Regions from separate parts of the Homo sapiens genome. Here region 2 is linked to region 1. The links come from fine-mapping of genetic effects on gene expression. A gene starts in region 1. The other region holds a variant in brackets. All regions are shown on one strand. Distances are from middle to middle. Region 1 holds the start of PRSS8 (serine protease 8). Region 2 has its middle 9.6 kb from the start of PRSS36.

Region 1 (2,905 bases):
AGACCCTTGGTTTGGTTCCCTCAAAACCACCTCCAGGATGGGAACGGTGGCTCACACCTGTAATCCCAGCACTTTGAGAGGCCAAGGCAGGAGGATCGCTTGAGCCCAGGAGTTCAAGACCTGCCCGGCCAACATAGTGAGACCCACATCTCTACCAAACAAAAACAAAAACAAAAACAAAACACAACTAGCTGGGTGTGATGGCATGCACCTGTAGTCCCAGCCACTAGGGAGGCTGAGGTGGGGAGGTGGGAGGATCACGTGAGCCCGGGAGGCTGGATCACTGAGACTGCAGTGAGCTGCGATCGGGCCACTGCACTCCAGCCTGGGTGACGACAGACCCAGACCCTGTTTCAAAAGACAAAAACCAAACCAAAAAAACCACCTCGATTGCCCCACTTTGGGAGTCAGACGTGGATCTGAATCCCAGCTGCACCTTCACTGGCAGTGTGCCCTGGGCAAGTCCCTGCTTCTCTGCCCATAAGGTGAGGGCTAAAACCCCCCACTCTGGGAGCCCTAAGAGAATCTAGTTGGAAGGCAGCCCAGCTGAAGGCCAGGCACTGGTTAAACCCCAGGGGAATCCGATCCAAGTCACCTCCCCCTCCCCTCCTCCCTCTCCGAGGAAAGTCTCACCTTCTGCCCCTTCCGCTCCTAGAAAGAAAGAGAAAGAGGAGGGGTGAGTAGGGAAGACTCGGGTTCCCTGACCCCTTAGTACCCACCACTGCTCCAGAGGGCTGGCCCCTTCCCTGACAGAGCCAAGGTGGGAAAGAGAGGCCAAGAGCTAGGGAGGCCGGGGGTTTTCTTGGGCCCCAGACAAGGGCACACCCCAGAAAATGATCACGCCGGCTCCCTCCAGTGCATTGTCCCCACCCTGCCCCCACGTCCTCACTTACCTGTCCCCGACCGGAGTAATCCAAGATAGAGCAGAATGGCCACAGCCCCCAGCTGCCCAGGCCCCAGGACCCCCTTCTGGGCCATGGCCCAGGACAAGGGCCCCTGGGGCAGACTCCAGGCACGCAAGGTAGGAAGCCTTGGGGTGGTGTCGAAGGCAGGACCCAGATGTTGGCTCAGAGGGAAGGATCCCAGAATCCGGGCTGGAAAGGGGCAGCAAGTGTCCAAGGCTGGCCTCTAAGGCAGGGAGCGGCCGCAACGGGAGACGCCTGGAGTATCCGAAGCGAGCAGTGTGGACGAGTCACCAGCACCGTCTGGCCACGCAGGGTCCTCCCAGGAGTGGCTGCACCTACCTGCCCGCCCCTCCCCTGGCCCCGCCCACTGGCTGGGCTCCGCCAGCTCCTCTTGCCACCAAAGTCATGAGTCCTTTCAGAGCTGCAGGCCCGTGTGTGTGCATGTATGTGTCCGTGTGTATGTGTGTGCACATGCATAGGCCTTTTGTGTGTGTGTCCCGGTGTGTAGTGTGTATGTGGTGTGTGTGTATGCCTGTGTAGGCTGTGTGTGTCCTCTTATGTGGTGTGGTATGTGTGTGTGTGTGCATGTACAGGCTGTATGTGCACATGTGTAGGCTGTGTGTGTCCCTGTGTGTGTAGTGTGTGTGTCTGAGTGTGCGTGCATGCACGTGCATGTGGTTTGTGTGTGTGTGCAGTCTCCCTGGAATGTGACGACTCTCCTCCGCCTCAGGTCTTTCAGGTTATCTCAGGCCAGTTATGCCCCCCAGGGCCTGGCCCCAGCTTTTATTATCTGGAGCCACAGCCACTCCTCCCTTCTTCCCTCCCTCCTTAGGCTGGTTATGGGAGCTTAAGACACTATGGTCTGTCCCCTGCCAGGCCCTTTCTGCGATGCCTGCACCTCATGGGTGGTGGCGAGCTTGTGGAGCAGCACCAATCATCCCACAGACATTTCCTAAGTGCCTATGATGTTCCCAGGTGTCCAGGACAAAACAGGCACCAGCCCCGTCCCCCTTGAGCCCTGAGCTCATGGTGAAGTAGGGGTGACACACTTCAATCAAATAATCACAAACAGGCTGGCAAGGTGGCTAGTCGGCTTTGGGAGGCTGAGGCTGGAGCATCACTTGAAGCCAGGAGTTCCAGACCAGCCTGGGGAATATAGCGAGGCCTCATCTCTACAAAGAAATATAAAAATTAGGCAGGCATTGTGGCGCATGCCTATGGTTCCAGCTATTTGGGAGGCTGAGGCAGGAGGATTGCTTGAGCCCAGGAGTTCAACGAAGCATTGAGCTATGATCACGCCACTGCACTCCAGCCTGGGCAACAGAGGGAGACCCTGTCTTAAAAAAAAAAATTGCAATTACACAATAATTTCAAGCTAGGAATAGTGATGAAAAAGAATGGCGTGAGCACACCACAGCCTGGCAAAGGCTGGCATTGTGAAAGGGTCCTCGAGGAATTGCCTTGGAAACTGAGACCGAAAGGGATTATAAAAGGTGGTAAGGCGAAGATGGGGGGATGGGGTGCAGAGGGCAGAGGCTCAGGGAAAGAAGGCTTGCCGTGTGGCTGCGGTGGGAGTGAGGCATGTATCCTCCTTGAGGGCCACTCTGGCCGTTCAAAACACCTGTTGAGGCTGGGTGTGGTGGCTCACGCCTCTAATCTCGGCACTTTGGGAGGCCAAGGCACACGAATCACGAGGTCAGGAGTTTGAGACCATCCTGAACAACATGGTGAAACCCCATTTCTACTAAAAATACAAAAATTAGCCAGGCGTGGTAGCACGCACCTGTAATTCCAGCTACTCAGGAGGCTGAGGCAGGAGAATCGCTTGAACCCAGGAGGTGGAGGTTGCAGTGAGCCGAGATATTGCGCCATTGCACTCCAGCCTGAGCGACAGAGCGAGACTCCGTCTCAAAAAACAAACAAACAAAAAAAATTGTGGAGCTTGGATGTGGTGGCTCACACCTATAATCCCAGCACTTTGTGAGGCCAAGGTGGGAGGA
Region 2 (2,905 bases), 24 kb after region 1:
GAGTTATATTGAAAATTATTTGTCGGGCCAAGTGAAGTGGCTCACACCTGTAATCCCAGCACTTTGGGAGGCTGAGGCAGGTGGACTGCTTGAGCTCAGGAGTTTAAGATCAGCCTGGGCAATATAGTGAGACCCCATCTCTACAAAGAGTTTTTTAAAAAATTAGCTGGATGTGGGCCAGGCGTGGTGGCTCAAGCCTGTGGTCCCAGCACTTTGGGAGGCTGAGGCGGGCGGATCACGAGGTCAGGAGATTGAGACCATCCTGGCTAACACAGTGAAACCCCGTCTCTGCTAAAAAGAAAATACAAAAAAATTAGCCGGGCATGGTGGCGGGCACCTGTAGTCCCAGTTACTCGGGAGGCTGAGGCAGGAGAATGTCGCGAACCCAGGAGGCAGAGCTTGCAGTGAGCTGAGATAGCGCCCCTGCATTCCAGCCTGGGTGACAGAGCGAGACTCCGTCTCAAAAAAAAAAAAAAATAGCTGGATGTGGTGGTGTGCACTTGGGAGCTACTTGGGAGGCTGAGGTGGGAGGATGGCTTGAGCCCAGGAGGCAGAGGTTGCAGTGAGCCATGCCACTGCACTCCTGCCTGGGCAACAGAACCAGACCCTATCTCAAAAAAAAATTATTTGTGTTTCCAATAGGCACAGGGCTCACGTCTGTAATCCCAGTGGTCTGGGAGGCTGAGGCAGGAGGATCACTTGAGACCAGGAGTTCGAAACTGCAGTGAGCTATGATTGCACCATTGCATTCCAGCCTGGGTGACAGAGCAAGACCCTGTCTTAAAAAAAAATTATTTGTGTTTACCTGAAATTCAGATTTAATCGGGCACTTATTTTATTTGCTAAATCTGGTTGGGAGTGGTGGCTCATGCCTATAATCCCAGCACTTCAGGAGGCTGAGGTGTGAGGATTACTTGAGTCTAGGAGTTCGAGACCAGCCTGGGCAACGTAACATAGACCCCGTTTGTACAAAATTTTTTTGTAAAATAAAAAAGGAGTAAAATAAAATTTTTTGCTAAACCTGGCAACCCTGTTCCCTATTCCATAATATTATCTTGCTAAGTCACTATATTGTTGCATATCTGCTTGGAAGAAATAACTTTTTTTTTTTTTGAGACGGAGTTTTGCTCTTGTTGCCCAGGCTAGAGTGCAATGGCACGATCTTGGCTCACTGCAACCTCCACCTCCTGGGTTCAAGTGATTTTCCTGCCTCAGCCTCCCCAGTAGCTGGGATTACAGGTGTATACCACCACTCCCAGCTAATTTTGTATTTTTACAATTTTGTATTCTGGAGTATTTTAAATACGATAGAGTATTGTATTTTAAATACAAAATTGTATTTTACAATTTTGTATTTTAGAGACGGGGTTTCACCCTGTTGGCCAGGCTGGTCTTGAACTCCTGACCTCAGGAGATCTGCCCGCCTTGGCCTCCCAAAGTGTTGGGATTACAAACATGAGCCACTTCGCCTGGCCAGAAATAACTTGTTCTCAGAAAAAACTTGGAGTTAGAATGTTATTCTATGAGGGACCCTCTGAGTGGGAATATTTGAGAGACTTGATAAAATTGGGAACATGTTGTGTGTTGACTCCACGCTTGACTGATATGATCAAGACATCCCCTTGGTGCT[C/T]CCTCTCGTGGCAAGAAGAGTAACTGCTCCTTCAATTTCACTCCCAGACTCTGCCCCCACCTCCCCACCCACCTCTTGGTCTCCAGGGACCATGCTGGTACCCTGAGCCTGTCGGAGCCAGAGATTGCCCCAGGACTCAGCGCTTTAGCCTCAAATGAGTTGCCCTACTTCAAAGGGACCTCACTTTGTGAGATGCACTGTATAGAATTTTTTTTTTTTTTTGAGATGGAGTCTCGCTGTGTCGCCCAGGCTGGAGTGCAATGGCATGATCTCAGCTCACCGCAACCTCTGCCTCCCGGGTTCAAGTGATTCTTGCCCCAGCCTCCCGAGTAGCTGGGATTACAGGCATGTGCCACCACGCCCAGCTAATTTTGTATTTTTTAGCAGAGACAGGGGTTCTCCATGTTGGCCAGGTTGGTCTCGAACTCCCAACCTCAGGTGATCCGCCCACCTTGGCCTCCCAAAGCGCTGGGATTACAGGTGTGAGCCACCGTGCCTGGCCCTAATTTTTGTATTTTTAGTAGAGACGGGGTTTCACTATGTTGGCCAGGCTGGTCTTGAACTATTGAGCTCAGGTTATCCACCTGCCTCAGCCTCCCAAAGTGCTGGGATGACAGGCATGAGCCACCGTGCCTGGCCATTGTATGCAATTTGGAGGGTGGTTCCTGAGACACAGAGAGAACAATCCGAGTTGGAGTCTGAGGAGGTGGCAGCTCATTGCTGGGAGAGAGACGTCCTCCTGCTTCTGAGGGGAGCAGTTTTGGGGTGCTCCTGCATAAACTGTATGGGGTCCGGGAGAGCTCTTGGGGGCAAGAGAGGAGGTCAGGATGGGATGGGGGTGAGGGCGAGGTTTTTGAGTCATGGCTGGAGGCAACAAGGCTTATGGCCCTGACTTGGAGGCCTGAGCACAGCGAGCTTTCTGAACCCCTCTGGAAAACAAAGGAGGTGGGGTGTTGCAGGACCTCAGGTACTCAAGCTGAGCAGCCATTTCTCCTGCAGGTTGTTTGTATTTTCTGAATTCTGAACATCTGAAACGAGAATGCGTATGAGAGGGGAAGCTGTTTAGATAATGAAAACCCATTGAGATTAGTTTAATCAAACACACAGGGACACGGACAGGCGTGGTGGCTCACGCCTGTAATCCCAACAGTTTGGGAGGCTGAGGTGGGTGATCATCTGAGGTCAGGAGTTTGAAACCAGACTGGCCAATATGGTGAAACCCTGTCTCTACTTAAAAAAAAGTACAAAAAATTAGCAGGGAGTGGTGGCTCACGC

The links.
Region 2: its variant is fine-mapped to the expression of PRSS8 in nasal epithelium (TOPMed, PIP 0.92).

What each region holds. Positions count from the first base shown.
Region 1 is chr16:31,134,521-31,137,425 of GRCh38, forward strand. It overlaps PRSS8 (serine protease 8), which reads right to left and starts at 1,207. Exons shown (of 6, transcript NM_002773.5): 1 at 894-1,207; 2 at 634-651. The coding sequence starts at 978. RefSeq lists an enhancer at 1-268.
Region 2 is chr16:31,158,223-31,161,127 of GRCh38, forward strand. No RefSeq gene overlaps it. Among named protein-coding and RNA genes, the nearest start is that of PRSS36, 9.6 kb to the left of the region's middle. The variant C/T (reference allele first, on the strand shown) is at 1,631.